2 separate regions of the Homo sapiens genome follow, and region 1 is linked to region 2. The links come from fine-mapping of genetic effects on plasma protein levels. A gene starts in region 2. The other region holds a variant in brackets. All regions are shown on one strand. Distances are from middle to middle. Region 1 overlaps CPQ (carboxypeptidase Q). Region 2 holds the start of CPQ (carboxypeptidase Q).

Evidence for each region. PIP is the posterior inclusion probability: the model's chance that the variant is causal. Protein levels are from antibody-based Olink assays in UK Biobank. Linkage for the fine-mapping came from a reference panel and not from the study's own genotypes, which makes the PIPs less certain.
Region 1: its variant is fine-mapped to the plasma level of the CPQ protein (UK Biobank, PIP above 0.99). The variant lies in the coding sequence of CPQ. If it changes the protein, the assay may bind it differently, which can mimic a change of level.

What each region holds. Positions count from the first base shown.
Region 1 is chr8:97,026,768-97,031,163 of GRCh38, reverse strand. CPQ (carboxypeptidase Q) reads right to left here. Exons shown (of 8, transcript NM_016134.4): 6 at 1,670-1,761. All of the region lies in intron 2 of LOC101927066 (a long non-coding RNA gene), which reads left to right. Among named protein-coding and RNA genes, the nearest start is that of TSPYL5, 250 kb to the left of the region's middle. The variant C/T (reference allele first, on the strand shown) is at 1,755.
Region 2 is chr8:96,641,145-96,645,463 of GRCh38, reverse strand. It overlaps CPQ (carboxypeptidase Q), which reads right to left and starts at 222. Exons shown (of 8, transcript NM_016134.4): 1 at 62-222. RefSeq lists a silencer at 1-347.

The DNA.
Region 1 (4,396 bases), 390 kb before region 2:
TTTTATATAAAGTCCAATATGTATAGAATTTTAGAGCTTCTTCTTAAAAATAAGTTACTCTCTTGCCTCGAGGATAAAGTCCGCACGTCTAAATATGATTCATATGTTCTTCTTGTTCAGGCTCTTGTTTACGTCTCTGTTCCACCCTCCTACCACTGTGCATCTTGCATTCTATGCAGCAGCCACTCTGAATTCCTTTCCATTTCTCTGGTGTGCTTTCCTCTGTCTCATCTCCTGCCTTTGCACACACAGGTCCCTCTGCCAAGGTGCAGTACCCACCTCCTCCCTCCCTCTCCATTTTCCTTAGCTTACTTCCACTCAGTCTTCAGGTCTCAGCTTAGATGTAATTTCTTTCCCAGAAAGACTTAACACCTTATAATTCAAGTTAATCGTCAGTGTCCTTTAGAATGTAGGCTTTGTAAGGTCAGGGTAGATCTTTTTGATGCTAACATTAATGCATAACATAGTGTATGGAACATAGTACATGTTCAGAAAATATTAATTGAATGTTGCTGAATCTAGAACAACCCTTATATGATGTTGTGGTCTACCACAACACATAGAAAATGATGTTACTGACCTACCAACCAAAGGACACTTGTCTTGAATTATGTTATCCCCAGGATCACCTGAGGCCAAAAGAACTAAAGTGGTGAAAGAGTAGGGCATAGGTCATAAGTTGTCCTTTGTACAGTAAATAATTGTATTCAGTGACCAAATTCATGACTTTGAACTCATTATACTCTAACTGACTGAAATAGGGTAATAGAGACTGACTTTGAAAAAAAAAAAAGGTCAAAAATAACATACACACAATTCACAAAAGAAACCCTTCTCCGATTTGGATAATTTAAGCTTGCAAGATCTGCTTCTTCTCATCTGGACATTCAGGGGAAACCATCCAGCAGCAGCAGCAGACCAAATGCTCCTCTCTGGGCAACCATCACTGCTTGCCAGCATATGCGCGTTGATTTTGGAGTTCCTCTTTGAACTAACATTTGACTTGATCTAGAGTATTTCTCAGCTTGTATATTTTGCTGTCTCAAAATTTGCTCTTGATATTAATCTCCCTATCCCCTCTCTTCCATGTGGTCTTGTATTTCTAATCATGACCATCCACAATAACCTTCCTGCTTCAAGCTTCACACTTGTGTAATGACAGCTGGTGTCAAACCAAGCTGTCCTCCACATTCCTGGGACAGAGGCCTGTGGCTGCTGCCATTTCCACCACCATCATGGCAATGCTCTTGGCAGACTCAATGACTTGGAACCTGGCTCTCAAATGCCAAGGCTTCTGGGAATATGGCGGGCATTGAGGTATGGGGATAGGCTCGGTGGGGAGAGGGAATGTTTGCCTATAACTATTTCTCTGACATACATGAATACAGCAGAACTAGGTAGACTTGAAAAAAATGGCAGCATGGCAATTGGAATTTTTCTTTGGCCTCAGACTGTGGTGTAGAAGAAGAAAAGCCCTCAGCTCTACACCACAGCATCATTGGTTTACCAGTGCATTCTCATTCACAGGGCTGGAGGGAGAAGGCTCATACAAGGGTGTTTCCTAGGGCCAGTTGACCAGAAAGTATTATTGAAGTCTTAAATGGACAATGAGAGGGATTTTTGTATATTACATGTACAAATGCTTAGCAATCCACAGCTGGGTTTTTACCTTGTGTAACTGATAATACTGGAAGGCACCAACTCCACCTTGTTCTTCTGCAGTCCAGAGCACCAGCCGCAGAGTCCTCTTTGGA[C/T]GCAGCCCTGGGAAAATAATAAAATAAAAAAGTGATACTTTAGTTGATTTTGAATTTTATAAAAAAATGGCAGGGTCCCTCATCTGCCTTGTGGAGGAAGGAGGAAATCAGAGGCATTCAACTCTCACTGGTGTGGTTGTCTCCTTCAGGGTATGGCCAGCACAGCAAAGGAGCAACTTCAGGGCTGATCTCCAGGCCAGGTTAATGGAGAAAGGGGTTGTGACAAATGCAGTTTGCAGGCCAGAAAGTGAGAGCCTCTCATCACATCCTTAACTTGATATCCTGCCCAGCAGAACCCAATGGATGGCCAAGATCAGTGAGATATTAGATCATATCTGGAAGATGCAGTTAGGATGACCCCAAGCATATTGTGGGGTCTTTCAATGATCTTAATTGTAATTAAATCATTTGGGTCTACTTCAGGATAAGCCATGTAGATTACTTTTTAGTCTGAATATACAAGCATAGCTAGATGCCCATGCTATCTTCAGTAATGTAATAACTGAAAAGCAGATGCAACAGTTATGCTTCTCCATGGCCAATTTCTTCTCCTACTTGGAAATAGAAGGTCATTTCCTTAAGGTCAATGAAAATTAATTGAATGAGGATGACATTTATTGACCTTATTACTACACAAACAGCTTGGTGGCAATTTTATTGACTTGTGATACACAAATTTGTATCCTGGACTTATTAAATTTTATGGCAGATGAAGTGGCTCCAGAACCATTTTTGGCTGACAATGTCAGCTCAGTGAAAGTTACCTACAAGGAAGCTGTTTCTGAAGTTAAAAAAATGGTGAGAGTATGCCAAAAGTGCTACTTTGTGACCAAGAATTAATATCTGTTCTGACTCAGACTGATAATGGCATTTCTGAGAAATAACAAAGACAGAAAAATGTGAAGCTGTGCTTAAATCTTATTAAGAGGATTCGTTTTCCCACCTCCTCATGGGGAGCCATAGGGAAGGGTTAAAATGGACTTTGAGTGGCTCTGAGATGGACACACCACATATCTCAGGTATAACCACATATGTGCTGCCACCCAGGTGTGTGGCTTTTGAAGGAGCCAGCTGGCTAACTGCAGCCTGGATGACAAATGCTTCTGGGACACAGAGCTCTCTCCTGCCTCTTCCAGGCTCCAAGAGGCACTCTCCTTTCCTAAGCCTAAGGAGCTGAAAAGGAGGAGCTACAGTTTTTCATGAAATTGAATATAGTTGTGAAGTCACTTTGTACTTCAGCATGTTAACATAACTTAAAAAGCATAGGTTTAGGATGCAGGCTGACCATAGTTGCAGTTAAAACATGGACAAGCAATTTCTACATTCAGTTCCTCAGCAATCCCATTGGTGTTTCCATCTAAGTCCATATAAAATCCAAATTCTCATCTTGGCCACTACTGTGGTCCAAGCCCCGCAGTTGTCTGGATTGCTGCAGTGGCCTCCTAACTGGGCTTGCTGCTGAAGCCCTCACCTCTCTTCAGGTGATGCTTCACACTGTAGCCAGGAGGGTCTTTGTAAAAGCTAAGCCAGATCATGTCATTTCTTGGCTCAAAACCTCCAATAACCAGAAGTAAACTTCTGGAAGACAGGGATCTATGCTTTTTATTCATTGTAATGTCGCCAATTCCTAGATTGTTTGACACACATTAGGTGCCCAATAAATGGTAATGAAGGAATAAATAAATGCAAAGCTTAGTGTCTTGATTAGAATGAAATTTGAAGCCACTTCTCCAGTCTCATCTTCTAAAAGTCTTCTGCTAGCTCATTCCCAGGCAAGGTGTTATATTTGAAAAAGGCAGACAGATCTGGTAAATCCTGCTATCATTAGGCACTAGCTGTGTAACTACTGGGATATGTATTTACCTGAACTTATGCCTCTTTATCTGAAAGATGAAGATAATATTATGTGCCTATGCCATAATCCTTTTTCAGATTAAATGAGATATGATAACACATGTAAGACAACCCTGGGGCTGGCATGTAATTGGCATTCAATAAGTGAAAAATAAAACCACATAACACACTTTCACCTCACAGAGTAGAAGGAACATCTAAATGCTCAGAGAGGAAATTCTTCCAAAGGCCTTTGAGTACTTGGAGAAAAAGAATTCTAGAGTGCCCACTACTTGCTCCACCGAGTCAAACCACCTGCCCACATTCATAGCACAAACTTAATAAACTGTTGTCTGAGGAAGAAATCTAATCAGGATTGCCAAAGATAACAATCTTCGGTTTCTTTCAAAGGAATGTGCTTAAAGTCAATTTAAATGAAATTACTTGCTTGTAATATAGGCAAAAATAAGAAAGGATAAAGTACTATTATTGTTTATAGGCTGCAAATAAAAATTCTAAACATTTTTTAAATCCACAAGAAAAGAAAAAAATACACTTTTTTTTACATATCTCCGCACCTACCAGTAAAATATTACCAAATTATTAAAATGACGAAATTCTCTAAATAAGAATAAACAGGCAGCACAGGCTACAGAATATTCATTTTTTAAAAGCAAATGCTCTGAATATCCGTATAGATTTTGTGTGCCAAGTGAAAGTTATTATCCTACAGGGTTAGTCTCCTTTACATTCCAAATCAGCCACATGGCCAGTGATGTATTAAGGTAATAAAGAAGTAATTGATTTGA
Region 2 (4,319 bases):
GTAGGAGCCAAGGCCTCGGCCCAGCCGCCCGCGGGCACTGCCAGTTCGGCTGCAAACACACCTGATAGGGCGGCTCTGACGGCGGCGACGGAGGCGGCTCCCAGGACTAAGCTCGCGGCCTAGCCTTACGGTGGCGGCGGCCACACCCCTGACTGGGCTGGGGCCCTCCGCGCCGCCCCGTGACTGCAGCCCTGCTTGCCGGCCAGGCCGCGGGGCCGAGAGGCGGGGCAAAGACCTGACTCGGGAAGCCGGGGCGGGCGCCGGGTTCGGGCTGGGGGCCACCTCCGGAACGCCTGGGGGGTTCTCACTCGCCCTCCAAGGGCGACCTCAGGGCCACAGATCGGCCGGAAGGCTTCTCAGCTTCTGGGCTGTGGCTCCTGTTAGAAAATTGAGTGTCGCCCTGGGTCCCGAGCCCCTAGGCCTGACTCCTTCGTGCAGGGGCGTCGCCTTCAGACTGGGTGGTGCGCAGGCCAGGGCCGCGTGCTTTTCAGAAGCGCAGCCTCAGGCGAGGCGGGCGGCAGGGGCCTGAGAAGGCTCATGGCTTGGCAGAAGGGTCCTGTGCTTCAGTGGGTGCCCGTGCAGGTGGAGAAGGACGGGGCTGCGAAGCTGAAAGGAAAACGTGAAAGGTTTTTGTGTGTCTCTGAGCCTGAGTAAAGGCCATGCTTTCTGAGCTGTCAAACGCCTCCCAAAGGGAAGAGATTATTAAACCGTTTTCCCACCCTGCCAGGTGTAGGATTGTTAGGCGGTGATGATGGAAGGCAGAGATGACCCGAACTGAGAGATCAGAAAAAGCGTTTTCTCTTTCGTTTGTGCCTGAATTATATGAGGGTGCCCAAGAAGAAAGGAGACTCATCTGATTACCCGGTGTGGCTTATCTCAACAAGTCACACGCATTCTGGTCACAGAGTATGTGCTCAGTGTTTTCAATGCTTTATGTTTTGATAAGTGCAAATTCCTTTGTTTAACGAAACTCTTATCAAATACAAACAGTTATCTTTGTGAAACACTGAGCAGTTCCAGTCTCTCCTCTTAACTAAAAAAACCAAACAGAACTTTTAATTAGAAAAGAAAAGAAAGAATAAGCACATGCCTACTGGGAAAAAAAAAATACCATAAAATGTGCAAAGTCCACTCACCTTCGGTTAACAGTCCCTCTAAACCTTACTAGTCCTGTTGCCCACTGAAACAAGTGTGAACTCTGAGGCATTGGAGGGTCCACATAAACATGGCCCTGGCCCACCTTTCCCGAATCATCTCTCGGATGCCATATCTAACCCCACTGAATTACTTTTTTCTCAAACTATCAAGGGTAAAAGACAAGTTTTTATTATTTCCAATCTGACATGGACCATTATTTCTGTAAAATACAAATCAAAACCTGCTAGCAAATAAGAAAAGAGACAAAAACTACAAGCCCAGTTTTTATTACAAGTGTACAATGAGTATGCCAAAAAGTATAAAATTAGTTTTTCAATTATTGGTTGTTGTTGTTGTTTTTATTTCTAAATGCTTACTCACAATTTCTATACTTACCTGTTCATGGAGCAGTAAAAAGCTGTTCACTGACTGGCGGTGGTTGGATTACCGTTTAAGTGGCACTGACTTGCTGTTCTTTAATTATGTCAAATGCTTTTCAACTTCTGGGCCTTTTCTCATGTTTAATGTGAACGAAGTTCTTTCCCACTCAAGTTTCAACTCGTAATAACAATAAAAGCTTCACATTTATTGAGTGCCTTGTGCTAAGATTTTTGATGCATTAACTGTGAATTCTTATTTGTCCTATGAGCTACCTATTATTATCATTATTATTTCCCCCCACTGTACAGATAAGGAGATGGAGGATTAGAGAGGTCAAGTCACAAAACCAGTGAGGTACAAAGTCAGCATTAAACTGAGCTGGCCTGATTCTGGAGCCCAAGCAATCAACCAACATGCTGGGCCCCTCTCTGTGAAACCTCCCCCATTTGCTTTCAAGTTGAAATTAATCACTCTTGCTTACACCTCTACTCTAACATTTTTTCCCGTTGGTTTTCATTCATGTCAGCTTCCCACGCTAGGCTTTAAGCTTCTGAGTACAGTGAATTTGTCTGCTCACACTAATCACAGGAAGCAGAGCTCATTCGCATCTTTGCATTACCACTATCTTTTATGCTTACTTCATGATATGTTTTAATTATTTATTCTTGTCAGCATCCTCTACTAAACCATACAATGTTCAGAGTTATCTTACCAAAGATGCTTTTATTTATTTAATTGAATAAGCATTTCTATAGCATGTATAATGAGCCAGGTACTATTCCAAGAATTTTAAAACCTCGCAAATAGACCTATAGATATTATTTTATCCCTCTTTAAACTGTGAGGAAACTAAGGCATAGAGAGGTTGCAGTAAGTTGCAGGACCAGAATTCCAAACCAAGCAACCTGCCTGGCTCCAGAATCTATTTCTGAGCCACCATGCTATGTTGATTTTCCACAATACCATGTGTTCTTCCTACTTAGAACACTTCACTGCAGGGAGATCAATCCATAATGGCCAATTAGAAGCCCCTGCCCGCAGCACTCAGGGAGGAATGAGAAGGGGCAAGTGAATTCAGTACCTTCAACTGAAATATCCAGGTTCTCTCATTGGGACTGACTAGGCAAACCACCGGCCCATGGAGAATGAAGAAAAGTTGGGCAGGGTGGGGAGCCCACCTCGGAGCAGCACAGAGCCAAAGGAACCTCCACCCTCAGCCAAGGGAAGTGGTGAGTGATTGTGCAACCCAGGAAACCATGCTTCTCCCATGAATCTTTGCAACCTGTGGATCAAGAGACCCCCTCATGACTCCACACCACCAGGGCCTTGAGTCTGATACACAGAGCTGTGTGTTGTCTTGACAGAGCAGCCACTCAGGCACATACAAAGAGGCCCAGAAGTTTTACATACTCTGGCCACAATCATCAGCAAGGCAGGAAATCCATCTGTAGGAAGGGGGCTGAATCCAGGGAGCCAAGCAATACCATTCTTCAGGCCCCACTTACATGACACCCCACAAGTTAAGACCCACCAGCTTGGAATCCCAGCCAGCCAATGGCAGTGGATAGGAGTCTGCCTGAGACAGGTTTGAGTTCCCAGCAGGTGGGGCAGCTGCCGTCTCTGTGATTCAGCCGACTCAGCTGCTGCAGCCTCCTGGATGTGGAGAATACAGACGGTCTAAACTAGGAAGGGTTCCCTCTGCTACAATGCAGCACACCTGCCCTACCAAAAAGCAGCCAGACTGCTTCTGTAAGCGGGACCCCAAGTCATTCCTCCTCGCTAGAGAGGACCTCCTTAAGCCCCTCCAGCAACTGTTTTATGAACAGAGCTCTGATCTCTCCCTGGGACAGAGCTCCTGGAGGGAGGGGAGGCCATCATCTCTGCAGTTCAGTAGACTCAGCCATTCAAGCCTGCCAGCTGTGGATAATACAGATGGACCATACAAGGAAGGGTCCCCCACAATGTAGCACAGCTGCCTTGCCAAATTGCAGCCAGACTGCTTCTTTAAGTGGGACCCCAATCCATTCCTCCTCATGGGTGGGTCCTCCCTGCAGGAGCTTCAGTCACTCCAGCCAGGGCGCTATGGAGAGAGCTCTGATATCTCCCTGGGACAGGTTGCCTTGGAGAGGGACAACCACCATCTTTATGGTTCAGTGGACTCAGCTGATCCAGCCTACCAGCTGTGGAGAATACAGGTGGTCCAGACTATGAGGGCCCCACCCACCCCCACTCCCAGTACAGCACACCTGCTCTACAAAAAGCAGCCAGACTACTTCTTTGGGTGGGTCCCTAATCCCGTTCCTCCTGACTGGGTGAAACCTCCCAATGGGGGTCTCTAACCACCTGCTGCAGGTGTATGAGGGCTGGCAACAGATCAGAAACCACCCAAGATGAAGCTTCCAGAGGAAGAAGCTGGCTGCCATCTTTGCTGTTTTGTGGCCTTCACTAGTGATACCTCCAGATACAGGAAAAAGTGAGGCAACTGGGGTCTGGAGCGGATCTCCAGCAAACTGCAGCAGTCAAGTGGCCTGACTGTTAAGAGAAAAACAAACAAAACAACAACAACACCATCAACAAAAAAGACCCCACAAAAACCTCATTCAAAGTCAACAACCTCAAAGATTAAAGGTAGATAAGCCCACAAAGATGAGAAAGAATCAACGCAAAAATGCTGAAAACCCAAAAAGCCAGAGTGCGTTTTCTCCTGCAAATGACCACAACCCCTCCCCAGCAAGGGCACAGAACTGGACTGAGGCTGAGATGGCTGAACTGACAGAAGTATGCTTCAGAAGGTGGGTAAC